Linked DNA regions of Homo sapiens. The protein of the gene in region 3 interacts with the protein of the main gene of each other region in a biochemical or structural test. Each region holds a gene or a part of one and is shown on either strand. Other genes may lie near its edges. The genes, in order: PPP1R14A, PAWR and PRKCZ.

Region 1 (3,747 bases), on a different chromosome or scaffold from region 3:
ACCGTGCCCGGTGCTTACACAGTTTTATGTCTGGGTGTAGTTATAAATTCTGTTGGGTTTTGTTTGTTTTTGAGACACGGTCTCGCTCTGTTGCCCAGGCTGGAGTGCAGTGGTGCAATCTTGGCTCACTGTGACCTTGGCCTCTCAGGCTCAAGCAATCCTCCCACCTCAGCCTCCTGAGGAGCTGAGATTACAAGTGCGTGCATGCCACCACGCCCGGCTAAGTTTTAAGATTTTTGGTAGAGACAGGTTTTCCCCATGTTGCCCAGGCTGGTGTTGAACTCCTGACGTCAAGCAATCCTCCTGCCCCGGCCTCACAAAATGCGTGAGCCACTGTGCTGGGCCAATTTCTGTTGTTTTATGTCTTTGAGTGGCTGCGGATCAGCGCTTGTGCTTGAAGGTGGTCAGTTTTTTCTTTAGGAGATAAGGAAGGGCCGTAACTTGAGTCATTTTGTGTTCCAGTGGGGTTGTGCTGTGTCTGCCTACGGCTGTGGCCCATGCCGCTGTGTCTGCGGGTGGCTGTGACTGTAGCATATGTTGAACTGTAGGTGACCCCCCCCCAGCCCCCGCTTGTGTCCTTGTGGGTTTGTGCATGGCTGTTACTTCTGGGCTGTGTCCGTGAGTGGCTATAGCTTCCTTCACTGTGCACATCTGTGTCTGCTTTTGCTTCCTTTGCCGTGGGTCTCTGTGTGGCTGTATCTCCCCTGTCACCATGTCTGTGTTTGGCTTTATGACACCCCCCTTCCCCCACTCTTTCTCCAGACGTGGCGGTTTCAGCTCAACTTAGCCTCCTCCCTCCTCATGCTAAACCCCTGGCCCTCCACAGGCGTTTGGACACATCTCTGGAGACCCAAGTCTTTGTGTGTTGCTCTCGGTGTGTCCACAAGCACAATGCCATAGAGCACGGATGGCCAGGCCAATGAGTGCCCGGCCCTGGGGCGCTCGTCCTCTTGTGCAGACCAGGCTGGCCGTGCACCAGCGAGTGTGCACCGAGACCCCAAGGGCGTGGGGTCTCCGCGCCCGGGCTCTATCTGTCCCCGACCACCCCCGAGCCCTCCCCGGGCTCACCATGCCGCGGTACAGCTCCTCCAGGCGCCCGTCGATCCACTTCTCCACGTCCAGCCGCCGCTGCAGCTCCCGCCGGTCATACTTGACGGTGACGCGCGCGTGCCGCTTCTGCAGCCCCCCGGGACTGCCCCCTGGCCCGCGGGCCCGCGATGGAGACTGCAGCTTGCTCAGCACGCGCTTGCCCAGCCGCTGAGCTGCCATCGCGCTGCTGGACCCAGCCTGGCCCCGCGCTGTGCGCCTTCGCCTCGCGCCCCGGGTGCTTCTTACGGGCCAGGGCGGGGCTAGCCGGGGGCGGGGGCTCGGGCTCGCCGGGAGGTCTGCCCCACCCCGGCCGCCTCAGGCCTCAGTTTCCCCGTCTGCAGTGCGAGAGTAGGCCGCTGCGTCGGCTTGAGGCACGCAGTCGTGCGAAGTTGAGGTATGGGCGGGGACCCAGAGTCCCGGGCGGGTCCCTGCATCGGGGGCTCCCGGGCCGGGATCCTGTGGGGCGGGGGCCTGGGACAGACACTCGGGACCCGGCCTGTCTGCGCCCTCTGGCGGTGGCGGGGTGGGGGGCTGTTGGTGCGGGAGCGCCTGCGCCGCTGTCGCTGTAGAAGGTCGAGCGGTCACTTGTTCCTTCGTTCATTCATTCACTCATCCATCCATTTGTTTGTTCACTCATTCCGTTCAACGAATTTTTTTTTTTTTGAGTCGATGTCTCTCTTTGTCGCCCAGGCTGGAGTACAATGGCGCGATCTCGGCTCACCGCAACGTCCGCCTCCCAGGTTCAAGCGATTCTCCTGCCTCAGCCTCCGAAGTAGCTGGGATTACAGGGATGCACCACAACACCCGGCTAATTTTTGTATTTTTAGTAGAGACGGGATTTCGCCATGTTGGCCAGGCTGGCCTCGAACTCCTGACCTCAAGTGATCTGCCTGCCTCCGCCTCCCAAAGTGCTGGGATTACAGGCGTGAGCCACCGCCACTGGCCCGGTTCAACGAATATCTATTAAGTATCCACTCTATACCAGACACTGCTTTACGCTCCAGGGATAGAGCAGGGAACAAAACAGACAAAACCAGTCCCACGCAGTTGACAGTTGTAGCCGGGATACATGAGAAACACAGTAAGTACGGTATTATACAGTTTATTATCATATAAGTGCTTTGGAGAAATATAAAGCAGAGAAGGAGAAATGGAGTGAGGGTAAGGTTGCAATTTTAGCGAGGGTGGCCAGGGAAGTCCCTTACTTCAAAACAGTCTTCTCACTTCTAATTATAAGCAGCAATAATTATACTCTAAAATTTAAATGTGGCTGGGCGCAGTGGCTCACTCCTGTAATCCCAGAACTTTGGGAGGCCAAGGAGGGTGGATCACGAGGTCAGGAGTTCAAGACCAGCCTGGCCAACATGGTGAAACTCCATCTCTACTAAAAATACAAAAATTAGCTGGGCCTGGTGGCACATGCCTGTAATCCCAGCTACTCGGAAGGCTGAGGCAGGAGAATCGCTTGAACCCGGGAGGTGGAGGTTGCAGTGAGCCAAGATAGCACCATTGCACTCCAGCCTGGGCAACAAGAGCGAGACTCTGTCTCAAAATAAATAAATAAATAAAATAATAATAAATAATTTTTTTAAAAAGGCCAGGCATGGTGGCTCATGCCTGTAATCCCAGCACTTTGAGAGGCCGAGGTGGGCAGATCACGAGGTCTGGAATTCAAGACCAGCCAGGCCAACATGATGAAACCCCATCTTTACTAAAAATACAAAAAAAAAAAAAAAAAAGCCAGGCGTAGTGGTGTGCACCTGTAATTGCAGCTACTGGGGAGGCTGAGGCAGGAAAATTGCTTGAACCCAGGAGGCAGAGATTGCGGTGAGCCAAGATCGCACCACTGCACTCCAGCCTGGGTGACAGAGCAAGACTCCATCTCAAAAAAAAAAAAAAAAATTGTAGAGACAGGGTCTCCCTATGTTGCCTAGGCTGTTCTCCAATTCCTGGGCTCAAGCGATCCTCCCACCTCGGCCTCCCAAGGTGCTGGGATTATAGGCATGAGCCACCTCACTCCACCAGCCAGCCATAATGTAAAACTTTTGAGTTTCAAAGAACATCATCAAGAAAGTGAAGAGACAACCCATGGAATGGGAGGAAAAAAATTGCAGTCATGAAACTCATAAGGTGCTGGGACGAGCCACCACACCTGGCCAAACTATACACTTTAAAAAGGTGAGTTGGGCCAGGCACAGTGACTCACGCCTGTAATCCCAGCACTTTGGGAGGGCAAGGCGGATGGATCATCGGAGGTCAAGAGTTAGAGACCAGCCTGGCCAACATGGTGAAACCCCATCTCCACTAAAAATACAAAAATTAGCTGGGCATGGGGGCACATGCCTATAATCCCAACTACTCAGGAGGCTGAGGCAGGAGAATCGCTTGAACCTGGGAGGGGGATGTTGCAGTGAGCTGAGATCATGCCATTGCACTCCATCCTGGGCAACAAAAGTGAAACTCCATCTCTAAATAAATAAAGGGTGAGTTGTATGGTATGTGAGTTATATCTCAATAAGACTGTGTTTTTTTTTTTTTTTTTTTTTTTTTTTGAGGCAGAATCTCGCTCTGTTGGCCAGGCTGGAGTGCACTGGCATGATCTCAGCTCACTGCAACCTCTGCCTCCCAGGCTCAAGCAATTCTCCTGCCTCAGCCTCC
Region 2 (3,747 bases), on a different chromosome or scaffold from region 3:
TTCTACTATTAATAGACTGTTTCGATAATATGTGAAAATATATTGATAGTATTAAAGAAATATTTGTGCATTCAGAAATTAGTTTGCATAATAAAAGTATTTTTCTTTCAGCAATATGTACATTTAATTCCTATAAATTATCTGCTTAAAACTTGTACTTCCATATCCACACCACTGCCAACAAATCTTTTCCCTAAACTCCAAACATCAGTGACAGGGTTTTCTTAAAGGAAAGGTTTATTCATTCTTTATCATTCATTCAATAAGTAAACTACGTCTACCTTAAACAAGGCATTCTGCAGAAGGTAACAAAGGATGCATTAAAGAAATGGAATTTATAATCTAGTAGGAAAGATAATACATATATATAGATAGATAGATAACTTAGTGATAAAGGCCCAGTTTCTAGCTTTATATTCTATGAGCATATAAAGGAAGAGTATTTTTACCTGGAGAGTTAGAAAAGACTATAAAAAATCTTGTAATTTAAAGAATGGCTACAATTTGGAATTGCAGATATATAAAAAAAGAGAATTACACATGTAACAGCATATTGGAAAAGCTTACAAGAGAAGGCTGCTAAAAAACAGAAGCAACACTAGAAATTATCTAACTCTACACTTTCTACATAAGAAAAACAAAATAGAAACAAATCTCTATCCATTATACACATCATGGGCTGGGTTATCCGTTCCTTGCAACTGAATACATTCCTAACCAATACACTGCCCTAAAGGTTTCTGCATGAGAACTCACACCCCCTCCAGACAAAAACAAATAAACAAACAAAAACAAAAACAAAAAAAACCACACACCTCTTTGTAGAGACACTAAGGAACTGATCACAGCAAAGTATAACAGTATGGCAGTGAAGACAATAGGAATTGGACAAAAAAAAAAAGTTGTGCAGAGAGAAGAAAACACTGAAGCCATTGTGCAAACCAAGAAGGTGCACTGGAATATTTGGAGATAGGAGGAACATACTGAAAGGGGTACCAAGCTTGATAAAGACAAGGTCTACAATGGAGGACATGGAAGAAAGCATCTGTCTGAGATGGAGTGTTTTTTATTATTTTTTATTATTATTATACTTTAAGTTGTAGGGTACATGTGCACAATGTGCAGGTTTGTTACACATGTATACATGTGCCATGTTGGTGTGCTGCACCCGTTAACTCGTCATTTACATTAGGTGTATCTCCTAACGCTATCCCTCCCCTCTCCCCCAACCCCACGACAGGTCCCAGAGTGTGATGTTCCTCACCCTGTGTCCAAGTGTTCTCATTGTTCAATTCCCACCTACGAGTGAGAATATGCAGTGATTGGTTTTCTGTCCTTGTGATAGTTTGCTCAGAATGATGGTTTCTAGCTGAGATGGAGTCTTACAACATTAGGATGATACAGAGAAGTCTGAGGACAGAAATGGAAAGGGCAAATGAAAGGAGCATGCAGGTTGAGATTTGGTGTCACCTGGCCCTTGTCATATCAACCTGCCAAGAGTGGGGCTTGGGGAAACAGCACAAGAAAATTATGATACTGTAGCTACTGTTATTGCTGAGTCTAAACTGTTCTTGACTCTAACTAACCCAGGAGACTAGTATCTTTTGCCAGCATACACAAGCTAACGTGTTAGCCAGCAAGTGGGGTATGATCTCAAAGCCATTACAGTTTTTGACAAAAGTGAGGACTCGAAAGGCATAGAGGGAACATAAATAATAGATAACCCAAGAAGTTTAGACTTCTCACTCCATAGCTTGGAATGATGTTACAATGCTATACAGTTCCTTGGGATAAGGAATGATCAAAATTCTTTTTGGGAAGAACCTGGAAATAGCAATGCAGAGAACAGGAACAAGACCAAAAGTGAAAAGACTAGTTAAGTGACTAGTTAAATGACATAGGCAATTGTATCCTATGAAAAATGATATATCATAGGTGGAAACAGAGTCAGTGAAAGAAATCTGGTATGGGACACCAAAGTGTTAAGAAATTAGTCCTTATTAGAAAAAAAAAATCTCTCTCAGGACTTTCAAAAACTTTCTCAAATCACTAGACAATATCTTGTTTAATGACAACATACCAGCAAAATTTAAAGTAAAATCAGACTCAAGACATTGATGTCCACTATTAACATAATTGTTAACATCATTCTGAAAGTGCTAGTTGATAGAACTAGGTAAGAAGAATAGGCGATTTTAACATTAGAAAGGAGGCAAAATTACCATCAGAGGAAATGATTTTGTAAAAAACAAAAACATTTTAGAATTATGAGTTAAGATTTTTTTCAGTAAATAAGCAAAAAATTTCCCAAAGTAACATCAATAGCCAGTTACAAAATTTTTAGTAACAACCATTAAAAAACTAAAAAACAGTACGTGCATGAAAAAAGCTATAAGACTTTACTGAAGAATACAAATTAAAACCTGCTCTTAAGAAAAATCTAGTATTGTGAAGGTGTCAACAGTCTCTTAACACATAAATTAAAATTCCAATCAAAATCATGAAGAAATTTATTTGGAAAGTAGTGGTGCATCATCTGGAAGAAAAAATACATAAGATATCAAAAAAATTACTTTTTTAAAAAAGAGGTATGACCAAACACTCTAGTTAATGTTAAAATGTATAAAACTACAATAACAAAAATACCTGATAGAGGTCCTAGAACAGAAAGAATAAAATAGCATAAAAGGCATTTTAAATCAAGGAGTTGCTTTAAAAGGGGGAGGAGAGGTCAATCATTTAATGAACAGTAGGAGAAGCAAAAGTATGAGATCTGGAAAAGAATAAAGAATGGTCTCATCTCTAGTCTTCTACTGTGTGAAAGCAATCATCACTTATTCTCCAGCATATGGACTCAAAAATCCCTCACCTAGGCTCCAACATCATTAGCTTAAAGTTGGAATTCTTAAATTATCATAGATTAATATTAACAGAAAGCAAAAGTTGAGGCAGGTAGCCACGCACTCCCAGAGCACTGGGATGCTATTTTATTTGTCTTTGTTTTCATTTTCTGAGACCCAGCCCCACAACACTAACTTTCCCTCCTCCTGCCCCCTCAACTAGACTCCCTTACCAGTATATTAAAAGAAAAAAGAAAGGAAGAAACAAAACACTCGGTAAATGTTTCATAAAACAATGAATGAGTTACCAAGATGAGACAAATCATCTTGGAGATGAACTGGAAGGTGAACTGTGATACCTGAAGTTAAAATTCTGAATGCTCTTTCCCATGGCAACACTGCTATCCACTGAACTGGGAACCTATTCATCACACATAGTATCCCTGTGGATACAGTATGTATCTAACGTTCCAGGCAGCTTTTAGTATAGGATTACTTGATGAATCACAACTTCTCTCCAAAATTCTGCTAGCAACCAGTGCAGTTCTTTTGATAACAAGCATCCTAGAAATTCTTAAGCAATCTTTTCTAACTGGGATAAATACATCTGGAGGAAGAAGTTGGCGGAAATCATGAGAAATAAGAGAATTCCTGTATCTGCCATACTTAAGAGAAGTGGATTCTCCTCATTCCTTTCTTCAGCTGCATAATAATTTTATTAAATAGATGTACCTACCATATTTTAATCAGAGCTTTATTGATGAACATTTGGGTTTTTTACACGCTCTAAGAAAAATGTGTTAGAAAGGCTTATATATATAGTTTCTGTATATATGCAATGGATTTCCTGGATAGATTCTTAGTATTAGGATTGCTGGCTCACAAGGTAAATGAATATGTCAATTTG
Region 3 (3,747 bases):
TCTCTCCAGCCTGGGAAACCAGAGTCACCGGGTGGAATTACACCCGCCCCACCACCAAAGTGCTCCCAGGGGCCAAAGCAAGGCAGAGGGAGGACGGGGCGGCCCAGAACTCCAGTGGCATTGCCTCCGAGCCTTGGTCCCAGGAATTGGACGCCGGAATGCAGGAGGGTCTGGGCCCCTGCAGCCCCTCGGGTGTGGACCTCCCTCTCGCAGGACTCCCCTGAGCTCCGCACCATCACCTGTTGCCCAGTGTGGTGGCTCCAGAATGGCAAGGAGACAGGAAGCCCAGGTCCCTGGACAAGTCCAATAGCCAGAACGTCAACCATACCAAGTTTTAACCTGCTGACCTCCAGGCCAAAAGACATGGCTGCCCTACCTCTTCAGGTAGGGCTGGACGGTCAGTCCCCCAGAAATCCCTTTCTTCTGGTTCTGGCACCAAACCCGGGCCACTGCACCCCGAAGGTTCCAGGTGCTTGCCACAGGGGAGCTGCAGAGGCCCCAACCTTCCCAAAGAAGAGACAATTGAGCCTCCTCAACAAACCCGGGGCCAAGCAGCCCCAGATGGCTGACCCGAGACCCCAAGACAAGGTTCGCAGGAAGCTGAACCCGCTCAGACTCGCAGGGCACCATAGAGACCCCCGGGGCACTGTCCTGAGAGGACGTGGCCCGGGGAAGTTGTCACCCGCCTAACCCTGCCGGCCGTCCCTGCCTCTGGGGCTCAGGTTGCCCACGCTGTAGCTGAGGACGCACCGGGGCAGGAGCAGCTTTTCGAGATCCCAAGGACCAGCCAGTGCAAGTCCGGAGCCCGCATTCTGCTCCCCTCCCTCTCTGCAGCAGCAGCCACCCTCGCGGGAGCGGAGGTCCCAGTTCGGGGCTCCTGGAGACGCGCACAGGTGGAAGAACAAACCCACGGGTCCTCCCCTCCCCACCGCCCACACTTCGGGGGGCAGCGACCCCTCCGCTGTGCCTGTGAGCCCGGCCACCTGGTGCAGCCCCCGCCACCCCCAGCAGCGCTGCCCCGAGGCGGCGGCCAAGAGTCCAGGACCCCTCCGCTCCAGCACCTGACCGCGCCCCCTCCCACAGCCAGGCAAGGGCCTCCGGGGGGCGGGTGCGACGCAAACCCCAGGGTCAGTCTCGGCCCCACCGTCTCCTCCAGAAACCCCTGTCCCCGCCCGACCGCCCCGAGCCCTGCCGGGGGCTGCATTGGAGCCACAGCGCCCGCGCCCCGGGTCTCCGGATTTTGGCTAAAGCGAGACCCCCGACCGGGTAAACGTGGAGAACGTTTAGGAAACGCTGATTTTAAGAAACCCGCCAGGAGTTTTCACAACTTGATGAAAACTTTCAGTCCTTACAGGTTTGCGGCCGGAACGTCCCCGCCCAACTTTCCAGCGAAAACGTCTACCACAATGACCGGGCCGAGGAGCTCGCGGCGCGGGGCCGACCCCAGGGAAACCCGGTCCCGGGGAAGGAGCCCGCGCTGTCCACGACGTGTCCGCGGGTGACGCTCACGGGCGGGGACCGAGGACCTCCCGCGACAGCCCCGGGCCCGCAGCGACCTCGCCGCCCCTTCCCTCTCTCCCTCTCGCGCAGGAGCCCCGACGGCTGAGCCCTCCCCGCCCTCCCTGCCTCACCCGCGCCGCTCCCCGCCCTCTCCGCCGCTCACCCCCCGTAATGCGCCTTGAGGCGGACGCGGCCGCCGCTCCCTTCCATCTTGGGGCCGGTCCTGCTGGGCATGGCGCGCTCCCCCCGCCGCCGTCAGCGCTGCGCCCCGGGAGCTCCGGCCATGGCGCGGGGCGGGGGCTCCAGGTGGGGCCGCGGCGGAACGCGGAAGGCAGCGCTCAGGACCGACGGCGCCGACCCGGTCAACTCCGCGGAACTCCGGCGGCGCGCGGGGCGGGAGCGGGGGGCGCGCGGGGCGGGACCGTCCGGCGGGGGCGGGGGGCGGTGTCCGAACATGGCGGACCGAGGTGGAGCCAGCGGCCAATCCGCGGGGCGGGCGGTCCCGGGGCGGGCGGTGGCACCTGCGGCCAATGAGGGCGAGGCGGGGCCGCCACCTGGGCCAATCCTCGGGGGACACCCGGCCGCGGCCCAATGGCGAGGCGCGGGCGGGGCTACCTGTCGGGCGGGGCTACCTGTTGGGCGGGGCGCGGCGCACCTGCGCCAATGGGACCGCGCGCGGCGCGGCTCTGCCCGGCAACCGGAGGGGCCCCGGCCTCTGGGACGGAGCGGCGCCCCCGGGAACTCGCTGGAAACGCGAGTTCTCGGCCTTCGCCCAGACCCTCCGAATCGAAACTCCTGCGGCGCGCGCTGCCAGCCCGAGGGCCCCGCCGTCCAGGGGTCCCCTGACATCTCACACTTGCGGACTGAAGCTGCGAGGAGCGGAGAACCCGGCCAGGGTCACGGACGGGAGCGTCCGGACTCGGGTTCTCTGGGCCCCAGCCCCCACTCCGCCCCCAGCGAATCCAAGGTCCCCTGTAGGGAAGGGCCGTCCACACTCGTGAGTGCAACCGCTCACTTCGCCCAGGTCAAGGACGCGGCATTGGCCCGAGTCGCCCATGACCTTCATTTCTGAAGCCACAGCCTCTCGGGCCTTACTCGAGGGGCTTGATCTGGACAATCGCCCTCCAGGCCCCTCCACCGCCGCCCAGCTCCCTGCCTCCTGGGCTCCTCCCCTGAAAATACGGTTTTCCCTGATCAGCCCATCCCTTACTGGCTGCATCCACTGAAGCCCAGACCTGCTGCCTGCAGGACCTCACCCAGGCACCAGGTGGACACCCAGACCCAGTTCCTGGCCTCGGCCCCTCTCCCCTGAGAGTGGACCTGCTCAGGCCACGCCCTCACACCCCTCACCCAGACACAGCCACCAGGACTTCAGCCACGTGCTTTCATCCCGCAGGTCGTGCCTGGCGCCTCCTTGATGCCAGGCCCTGGGGAGACCTGTGGCCACAGAACCCATGTTCTCCCTGGAGATGGACAGGAGGCCCCTCTCCTACGCAGAAGCTGTCGTTTTTTCTTCTTAAACACCGTTTGCCCCTCCCTCCACCCACCGAGCCATCTCTGCCCCTCTCTACAGCAAAGCTTCCGCCAAGCCGGCCCTGCTCCCTGTCTACCTCTCCTGCCACCACCCACTCACACGTTTTAAATACAAGCCGTCGGTTCTCAGACGTTTTCTCTTTTTTTCTTTCTTTTTCTTTTTTTTGAGATGGAGTTTCGCTCTTGCTGCCCAGGCTGAGTGCAATGGCATGATGTCGGCTCACTGCAACTTCTGCCTCCTGGGTTCAAACCATTCTCCTGCCTCAGTCTCCCAAGTAGCTGGGATTACAGGTGTCCACCACCATGCCCAGCTGATTTTTGTATTTTTAGTAGAGACGGGGTTTTTCCATATTGGCCAGGCTGGTCTCGAACTCCTGACCTCAGGTGATCCACCTGCCTTGGCTTCCCAAAGTGCTGGGATTACAGGCGTGAGCCACTGTGCCCGGCCTCAGACATTTTCTTAACTTGGCCTTTGGTATCAGACCCCTCCTGGGAAGGCTCACACATCCCTGGCCCCGGGTTCCAGCTCCCTAAATCTCCCATCCCTCGCCCTCCTGGTCTGCAGCTTTTAAAACTGTGGAGCCCCAGCCTCAGCCTTTGGCCCGCTTTGCATCCCCAGCTCAGATGGGCCCCCTGAGCTCCCAACCAACACTCACCCAGCCCCAGGCATCCTCCTAATGAGCCTCTCAGCTGACGTCTTCCCCCACTCCATCT

Evidence for each region.
Region 1: the proteins of PRKCZ (region 3) and PPP1R14A form a complex in vitro, tested with the Homo sapiens proteins (one study listed by BioGRID).
Region 2: the proteins of PRKCZ (region 3) and PAWR form a complex in vitro, tested with the Homo sapiens proteins (one study listed by BioGRID).

The regions. Positions count from the first base shown.
Region 1 is NC_000019.10:38,255,071-38,258,817, forward strand, and holds the start of PPP1R14A (protein phosphatase 1 regulatory subunit 14A), read right to left. Parts: upstream 1,305-3,747; 5' UTR 1,270-1,304; coding exon 1,069-1,269; intron 1-1,068. UniProt on the Homo sapiens protein: Inhibitor of PPP1CA. Has over 1000-fold higher inhibitory activity when phosphorylated, creating a molecular switch for regulating the phosphorylation status of PPP1CA substrates and smooth muscle contraction.
Region 2 is NC_000012.12:79,621,237-79,624,983, forward strand, and holds part of PAWR (PRKC apoptosis WT1 regulator protein), read right to left. Parts: intron 1-3,747. UniProt on the Homo sapiens protein: Pro-apoptotic protein capable of selectively inducing apoptosis in cancer cells, sensitizing the cells to diverse apoptotic stimuli and causing regression of tumors in animal models.
Region 3 is NC_000001.11:2,048,618-2,052,364, reverse strand, and holds the start of PRKCZ (protein kinase C zeta type), read right to left. Parts: upstream 1,955-3,747; 5' UTR 1,735-1,954; coding exon 1,664-1,734; intron 1,610-1,663; exon of another isoform or gene 1,353-1,609; intron 1-1,352. UniProt on the Homo sapiens protein: Calcium- and diacylglycerol-independent serine/threonine-protein kinase that functions in phosphatidylinositol 3-kinase (PI3K) pathway and mitogen-activated protein (MAP) kinase cascade, and is involved in NF-kappa-B activation, mitogenic signaling, cell proliferation, cell polarity, inflammatory response and maintenance of long-term potentiation (LTP).